3 separate regions of the Homo sapiens genome follow, and all the other regions are linked to region 2. The links come from fine-mapping of genetic effects on gene expression. A gene starts in region 2. Each other region holds a variant in brackets. All regions are shown on one strand. Distances are from middle to middle. Region 1 holds the start of LOC105371411 (a long non-coding RNA gene). Region 2 holds the start of VPS9D1-AS1 (VPS9D1 antisense RNA 1). Region 3 overlaps ZNF276 (zinc finger protein 276).

Region 1 (2,748 bases), 650 kb before region 2:
AGGTGTGGACACAGCACATTGCTGAGGGTGCCCCTGAGCACCCACCTTCTTCTGGGACGGACCGGCGCCCAGCGGACACTGGAAGCATCTGAACTGGTGTGCAGTGCAGCCCTGATTTCCCGTGGGCTCCTCCCTTTCCCGTGGGCTCTGCGCTTTCTCGTGGGCTCCTTCCTTTCCCGCGGGCTCTGCACTTTCCCACTGGGCTCCTCGCTTTCCCGTGGGCTCCTCGCTTTCCCAGTGGGCTCCGCGCTTTCCCTTGGGCTCCGCGCTTTCCTGGTGGGCTCCTCACTTTCCTACTGAGCTCCTCGCTTTCCCGTGGGCTCTGTGCTCGCTCCCAGGACCAGCAGTCACTGTCCCTCCATGTGCTCACCTTGGGGCACCGGGCACTGGCTCCTGCCTGATTTATGGTCTTCCCCGCCCTGGTCTCAGCTGCCCCAGGGGCGCTGGCCCCGTCTTCACCTCACGCCCCCAAATGAATTACAGGAGCCACCTGGGGAGAAGTTTTAAGAGGAGAAAAATACCTTATGATCGAAAACTATGAAGAAGTAAAATAGCAGCTAGGAGCAGCTCCCCTAACCAATCCCTGGCTTCCACGGGCCAGTGGCCAACACCTGGCCAGACGGGCCAGCAGCCTCCTGCCAGGGCCCTGGGCTAACAGCTGAGGCCACCTGCACCCAGGAAGTTTCGTAGTGATTTTCAAGGTCTGGTTACCGAAAGGGCGAAGGGATGCTGGGCACTGGGGGAAATGCTGACCTCCAGCCTCCACCCCCACGGTGAGGAGCGTGAAGCCCCAGGGTGGGTGGGGAGATTCCTTGCAAAGGTGGCCCCGTCCCTGCACCCCTCACCCCTGCTGCTCCCCCACGAGGAGTGGGAACCCCTCATCCATGCCCACACAGGGGCCCTGCTGCTCCCCCACAAGGAGTGGGAAACTTGCAGTTTTCCGGGAGGGACTGTGCACCAACTCCAGCTTAGGCCTCCAGGGGCTCAGCCCCAGCTCTCCAAAGCTTCCATCGCCATGGAGACAGCAGGATCAGCAGAGCAGGGGGAGCCCATGAGGGCATGGCTGTGTCCAGCCTGGAGCGAGGTAGGGCAGGGGGTGAGGGGTGAAGCCC[G/A]GGGCCCAGGCTTGGCGGGGTGATGGGAATGAGGCAACCTGGCCCAAGGACCCAAAGCTGATGGAGACCCACAGACAAGGGGAGGTTGAGGAGCTGCAGGGTCTCCTGGTGGTGGTGGGGGTCTGGGACCACCCAGCCTCAAAAAGGCTGTGAGAATCACAGGAGTGTTTGAGACACCCCACAATTAAGGGGCATGGCGGGGACCAAGCAGGGTCCCAGAGCCCAGAGCAGAGACGGTGGGAAGGACGGGCTGTGGACGAGGATGGGTTCTGACAAGAGGAGGGTGACAGAGCGGGGCGGCCATGGCGGCAGGAGGGCTGCAGGGGCAGGGGAGGGAGTGAGGTCAGTGGGAGCTGGGGAGAGGACAGGGCGGGAGGGCTTGAGGGGCTGCTGAAGGTATGCACTGAGGCCTGCAGAGAAGCCAAAAAACGCTGGGTTTTGGGTGCCCCCATAGAAACACAGGGCCCAAAGGGAAACGGGGAGCCCCTCTCTACCCGGGACCCGCCCTCAAGGGTGGCTGGATGAAGTGTGTCTGGGGGCTTATGGTGGTGGTCACGCTCCAGGCCCATCCTGGACCGGGGATTCTGGGCCCAGGAAAGCTGCTGGAGCCTGTGGTCACCTTTGACCCCTGCGGCCTGGCTGCTCCTGACAGCATGAGTTGATTCAAGGACAAAGCCAGGACCCCTGGCTTGGAGGGACAGTCCCACAACCCCTGGGTCCCAGGCTGGCACACGTGCCTCCTGGGCCACCCCCACCTGCCCCCCACCGCTAGCACCCCACTCTCTACCCTCCCAGGCCAGCGCACTGCCTCCTGGGCCAGCACCCCCACCTGCCCCCACCGCCGGCGCCCCGCTCTCTACCCTCCCAGGCCAGCACACATGACTCCTGGGCCAGCACCCCCGTCCCCGCCGGCACTTCACTTTCTACCTTTGCTCTTCTTCCCCGGCCATGTCTCCTGCTCTGGTCCTGGGGCCGGAAGTCAGCGCTCTGTGCAGATGAGCTTGGGGCAGCCCACGCCCTGCAAACCCTGCCAGGCTTCTGAGCAGCCGTTGACCTGCCCTGCTCCCCTGATGCCTACCTGGGGGGCAAGAAGCCTAAGTCCAGCCCCCTTCCACAGGGTCCCTTTAGCTTCTAGGGACGCATGGGGGTGGGGTCCAGGTCCCCTGGCCCAAGGGCTGGAGGTGCCAGGGGCTCTTTGATTGCAGGAAGGGAGCCCCAGACAAGTAAGGGAAGGCCAAGGGGGCATGAGGAGGCTTGACGGTGTCTGCCTGGTGCGGGGTCCCCACCCTGCTCCTTAGGCCAGGCCGTGTGGCCCCCTCTTCTGGGCTCTGCCCACTGGGCTGCCCAAGGGCCTGGTGCACTCGGCCTTATCCAGCCTCCTGGCTGTGAGGCTGGAGCATCCTTTGCACGGTGGCTCCATCTCCCCTCTGCACCGTAAGGGCTGACGTCTCCAAGGGCTTCTGCGATGGGGGCCCTCTTTGCAGGCGGAGTCTGCTGGCCCTGACTTGTCCTGGGGTGCTTGAGTGTCCCAGGAGGCCCAAAGAAGAACAGGCTGAGAAAAGGGGGCACAGGTGGCCACGGCCCCAGGTGTGGTCCAGCCAGGCCAGTCCAGAGAAGGAGGAAGGGAGACTGGGTG
Region 2 (2,748 bases):
AACGGACCAATAAGCAGGGGTGAAGAGCTGCGGCGGCTCTCCCAGGGAGGGCCTGGCCTCACCTACGGCATTGTGGATCTCCTCCACCGCGGTCTTCAGCTGCTGCAGCTGGGGCTCCGGCTGTACCCCACGGCCCCGGCCCTGCCGCTCAGACGTCCCCAGGAACTGCTCCAGGTCCTCGAACGAGCTGTCCTTGTCTGGCAATCCAGATGCGGTGTCCCCCAGGGGTGAGGGAGACCCCACGGGGCCGGGTTGGAGTGGGGGCGTGGGGGGACTGTCCTGGGGCCGCGGGGCTGCGCTGGGCTCGGGCGGGGACAGCATGCAATGGAGGCTCTGCGAGGGCCGCAGCCGTCGGCTTCCGGGGTTGGGGGTCGGGGGGCAGCAGCCTGGGGCTGGCGCGGCTGCTCTGCTCACGGCGGGATACAGGGCGCTGTACACGGAGCACTGCAGCCGCCTCAGGAGCTGCGCGATCGGGTGGTCGGGGAGGCTGCGGGAGAAGAGGACGTGAGAACGCGGCCAGCCTCGGCCTCTCCGTGGCATCCACAGGTGCCGCGCTATGCCCGGTTTCAGAGAAGCGACTTGCATTACCTCCTGACAGTGAATGTTGGAAAGTCTGCCCCCCGCCCCCGCTGGGGAGGTTGGAGAAGCCGAGGAAACGCCCTCAGCGCAAAGGGAGCTGCAGTGTCCACGTGGCCGGGCACAGGCTCCCTGTGTCAGTCCAGCCCCTCTCCGGCACCTGGCACCAGGCAGAGGTGCCCAAGGCCGGTGCGCAGGGGCTCTGTGGGGCCTGAAGGCCCAGCTACCTGAGCAGGTGTGAGACCAGGCTGGTCACGAGTGACAGGTCCCCCGGATTCCTCTTGAGCTTGGCCTTCCAGTGCTTCGGCCAGTCCTACGGGACAGGGGGCCTTGAAGGAAAGCACGGTGGGTCCGCCACGACCGGACGCGCCTCATCTCCCACCAGTGCCGACCCCTAGAGACTGTGGGAGCCCGTCCTGGGGTGCAGGAGACCCAGCGCCAGCAGGCCCCGCGACCCGCCCCCGCCCCCACCCACACCCGAGGGAAACCTTAGGCGAACCCTGGGCCTGCACCCTCGCTGGGACCCTCCCTCCTCGCAGGGACCCTCCCTCCTCGCTGGGACCCTCCCACGCGACCCCTGACCTCGCCTCCTCGCTCTGCCCCGCCCCACGCAGCCCTGGCCCCGCCCCCTCACCGGGCCCTCCCACGGGCCTCTGGCCCCGCCCCCTCACTGCCCCCCACAGCCTCTGGCTCCGCCCCCCACGGGGGCCCACCCAGGCGGCTCTGACCCCGCCCCCCTCGCTGGGCTCCTCCTACAAAGCCTGGGCCCGTGGGGGACGCACATGGTCCTGTTCGTACTCCAGGATGGCGGCGTAAAGGGCCCGCTGCTCCCGTTCCTCCGGGGTCAGGGCGACTTGGCTGCAAAACCTCCTGGGGAGAAAGGCACGCGGTGGGTGCCGGGGCCAGGCCCTCCCCGCAGCGGCCCCAGGGGCGGGCAGGAGTCCCACCTGTTGGCGGCCTCCTGGAGCCGCAGCCGGCGCTCCTCCATCTTTCTCTGGAGCTGGGTGCAGAGTCAAGGGGCCGAGCGTGGGATCTGAGCGGGCCCTCGGTTCCCAACCCCGTCCCACACCCGGAGAGGCCGGGACGTCCCAGGGACCTCCTCTCGGTGAGGGGCTGTCCCCAGGTAAGGCTTCTGGGGCAGAAGGCAGCCTGCGCTCAAGCCAGGAGGGCCGGGCCAGAGAACATGGGGGACGGCGGCCGGGCCTTCCCCTGAGACCCTGCCTCTGCAAAGCGGGGAGCCCCTCGGCCCTGTACCCCGACCCCGGAACCTCCGCTCCCCTCGCTGCCCCCTTCTCTGCCCTTGGCTCAAGGCCACACTGAGTTTCCCCTCGGGGACCACCAGGGCGGTCAGAAAGGCTGCTGTCTCCTCCCGGGCTTTGGCAATCACTAGGTTCTCCATCATCTGCCGCTGTAGAGAGAGGGTCTGGGGGGGGAGGAGGGAGTAAGGCCGACTCCCCTCTGCCCCGCGCCCACGCACCCCCAGGCCCTCCCTAGCCCCCACTCACCAGGGATGTCTTCTGCATGGCCTGGCTGGGGTCTAGCCGCGCCATTCGGGCCTCATACGCAGCCTTCAGCTTCTGATTCTGCAGGGAGGCCTCCTCCAGTGGCGTCAGCTCTCTGGAAATGTGACAAGCTGCTGTCTAGACCCCAGGAAGCCCAGTGGTGTCTGGACACCAGAGGAGTCTCTCTCATCCTCCCGGATTGCTCTGAGGCCAGGAGGTGAGGAGAAAGAGGAGGGGAGCCATCTGGGGTGGGCTGCAACATCTGCCCCTTCTTGCCTGCCCTTCCAAAACACAGGTTTTGGCCAGGTGCAGTGGCTCCCGCCTCTAATGCCAGCACTTTAGGAGGCTAAGGCCGGGCGGATCACCTGAGGTCAGGAGTTCGAGACCAGCCTGGCCAACATGGTGAAACTCTGTCTCTACTAAAAATACAAAAATTAGCTGGGCATGGTGCACACTTGTAATCCCAGCTACTCGGGAGGCTGAGGCAGAATAGCTTGATCCCGGGAGGTGATGCAGTGAGCCGAGATCTGGCCACTGCACTCCAGCTGGGGTGATAGAGTGAGACTCTGTCTCAAAAAAACAAAACCAAAACAAAAAATAACAAAAAGAAAGAAAACACAGGTTTTGGTATTGCCAGGACTTTTGGTTTTTCTTTTTTTCTTTTTTTTTT
Region 3 (2,748 bases), 22 kb after region 2:
ATCCAGAAAGGAACCACAAGTGCGTCTCTCTCTTTAAGTCTCCGATAGACGCACACTGGAAGCTGCTGCATTTGCTGGTCCCTCAGGGACTTGCCAGACCAACTAAAATGCACGACCCCAGACTTTTGGAGGACAAGGTCTCCTGCCCACCATGGTCCCAGCCAGCAGCTCCAGGAACACAGGCTGGGCTCCCTGCAGTGGAGGCGGGGTTGAGGAATGCTGGGGTGGCAGCTACTCACCGTGTGCTTCCCAGGGAGCATCACCTGTTCCTCTGAAGCCCTGCCTGGGTGGCTTGAGCTTGGAATCAAGCTGACCCATTTTGAGAGAGTGGATTCTGAGCTTTTTCCTAGCGTAAGGTCGTTTTGATAAAGGAGTGGTCCTTTGGACATCCCTGTTCTGCCGTCCTGATACCTCTAGTTGTGGGTTTTATGTGTAGCACAGGGTGAAGCTTTAGTTCTCAGAACCCACCCCTGCTGTACCCTGTGCCCTCGCCCTCCGCTGTGTTTGCCCTGACCCTCCTGTACCCTGCGTCCTCGCCCTCTGCTGTGCTCACCCGACCCTGCTGTACCCTGCGCCCTCGTCCTCTGCCGTTTGCCCCTGACCCTGCTGTACCATGCCCTCGCCCTCTGCTGTGTTCACCCTGACCCTGCTGTACCCTGCGCCCTCACCCTCTGCTGTGTTCACCTGACCCTGCTGTGTCCTGCGCCCTTGCCCTCTGCTGTGCTCGCCCTGACCCTGCTGTACCCCGCTGTACCCTGCGCCCTCGCCCTCTGCTGTGTTCACCCCGACCCTGCTGTACCCTGCGCCCTCATCCTCTGCTGTGCCCTCCCCCTCTGCTGTGTTCGCCCTGACCCTGCTGTACCCTGCGCCCTCGCCCTCTGCTGTGTTTGCCCTGACCCTGCTGTACCCTGCGCCCTCGCCCTCTGCTGTGTTCACCCCTGACCCTGCTGTGTCCTGCGCCCTTGCCCTCTGCTGTGCTCGCCCCTGAGGCCTCCTGTCCAGAGTTGCTCTGGCTTTGGTGGCTTCAGGTAGATTCTGAGGGTCAGTCAGCACAGAAGCAACTCAGGGAAGCTTCAGAAAAGACCATTTCTCAGGTTGGAGAGACAAAAAACATTTTGCAAATGGAGATCAGAAACCATTGAATTTGGGAACCTCTTTTTTTCAGAGTCTCTGGTAAGAAGAGTGAAAGCAAAGAAGCCAAGAAGTCTGAAGAACCAAGAATTCGGAAGAAGCCGGGACCCAAGCCCGGATGGAAGAAGAAGCTTCGTTGTGAGAGGTGATGCCTGCAACGCGAGGCTCGCCCTGCCTGTCGGGGCCGGGGCTCCATGCATGCTCTTCATTGCAGGGAGGAGCTTCCCACCATCTACAAGTGTCCTTACCAGGGCTGCACGGCCGTGTACCGAGGCGCTGACGGCATGAAGGTGAGCACTGGCTGTGCCTGACCCAGGCCCGGCAGCTGTCAGTGTGAACCTGGGGGAGGTAGCAGGTGTTTCTGCAGCCTAACTCAGACTTG[C/T]GCCCAAGGACACTTTGACCTAGGTTAACCGAGACCTGAAGCAGTCCTAGCCAGTGCCATCCTTGGGGGTAGATGTGAGGCCAGACTTTCACTTGAGACACCCCCCGGGGGGTCTAGAAGTTTCTTGGAGTGAAGCTGTGAAGGAGCCAGTGGTGTCGCTGGAGGAGGAGTTGGATCTGCCTTCCAGGGGCCTCAGCTGTCACCTACTGAGGGCTCGTGCCATGTGGCCCGGGTGCGGCTCTGAGGGTCTCTCACCGAGTCTCTCCTTCAGAAGCACATCAAGGAGCACCACGAGGAGGTCCGGGAGCGGCCCTGCCCCCACCCTGGCTGCAACAAGGTTTTCATGATCGACCGCTACCTGCAGCGCCACGTGAAGCTCATCCACACAGGTACGCCTATCGCCAGTGTCGCCCACGCGGGTGACAGCCAGGGGCACGTGACCTGCTTTCCAGTCTTCCTCATACCCATCCCCGCCCCAAGAGTTGGGGGTGCGTGAAGGTGGCTCATGGGGTCTTTGGTACTCAGTCACGTTGGTAGATGAAGGCTAGAGTAGGGCGTCAGTGTGAATCTGCCCTTCCCTGTGATGGAAGGAATTCCTGACTTCCCCAGGATCTAGGCAGTTTGTCAAAACTAATAGCCAAGCAATCTTGGTGTCCTTTTGCAAATTGGTCATTTTATTTTTTAATTTTTTTTTGAGACGGAGTCCTGCTCTGTTGCCCAGGCTGGAGTGCAGTGGCACCATCTTGGCTCACCACAACCTCTGCCTCCCAGGTTCAATCAATTCTCCCGCCTCAGCCTCCCAAGTAGCTGGGATTACAGGCACCCGCAACCATGCCTGGCTAATTTTTGTAATTTTTGGTAGAGACGGGGTTTCACCATGTTGGCCAGGGTGATCTCTAACTCCTGACCTCAAGTGATCTCAGCCTTCCAAAGTGCAGAGATTACAGGTGTGAGCACTGCACCTGGCCCAAACAAGTGTATCTTAAAAGGCAAGGCAGAAGGCATGAAGGCACACCAGCTCTGGGGAGCTGCCCACGTGGACAGGCGGGAGGCACGTGTGGTTCTGCCTTTTCACATGTGTGTAGGTCGTGTCATTAAGACCGGAGGCGGATGGGGGAATTATGACTGAGGGTGCTGTCTCTGTGCCCGTCTTATTTTTCACAATTTCTATAATGCACAAGTTACTTTTATAATCCAACAAGGATATGTTTTCAAAATGACAAACTTGGCCGGGC

Evidence for each region. PIP is the estimated chance that this variant, and not a neighbour inherited with it, causes the effect.
Region 1: its variant is fine-mapped to the expression of VPS9D1-AS1 in monocytes after R848 (Quach 2016, PIP 0.95).
Region 3: its variant is fine-mapped to the expression of VPS9D1-AS1 in tibial nerve (GTEx, PIP above 0.99).

What each region holds. Positions count from the first base shown.
Region 1 is chr16:89,061,140-89,063,887 of GRCh38, forward strand. LOC105371411 (a long non-coding RNA gene) reads right to left here and starts at 2,691. Exons shown (of 3, transcript XR_001752336.2): 1 at 2,040-2,691; 2 at 371-490. The variant G/A (reference allele first, on the strand shown) is at 1,113.
Region 2 is chr16:89,710,524-89,713,271 of GRCh38, forward strand. VPS9D1-AS1 (VPS9D1 antisense RNA 1) reads left to right here and starts at 1,333. Exons shown (of 4, transcript NR_036480.1): 1 at 1,333-1,699; 2 at 2,166-2,295. It overlaps VPS9D1 (VPS9 domain containing 1), which reads right to left. Exons shown (of 15, transcript NM_004913.3): 5 at 2,082-2,193; 6 at 1,937-1,999; 7 at 1,524-1,576; 8 at 1,359-1,446; 9 at 804-889; 10 at 63-487. RefSeq lists enhancers at 164-727, 2,225-2,324 and a silencer at 1,165-1,584.
Region 3 is chr16:89,732,137-89,734,884 of GRCh38, forward strand. It overlaps ZNF276 (zinc finger protein 276), which reads left to right. Exons shown (of 11, transcript NM_001113525.2): 7 at 1,166-1,276; 8 at 1,346-1,421; 9 at 1,785-1,902. Among named protein-coding and RNA genes, the nearest start is that of ZNF276, 12 kb to the left of the region's middle. The variant C/T (reference allele first, on the strand shown) is at 1,514.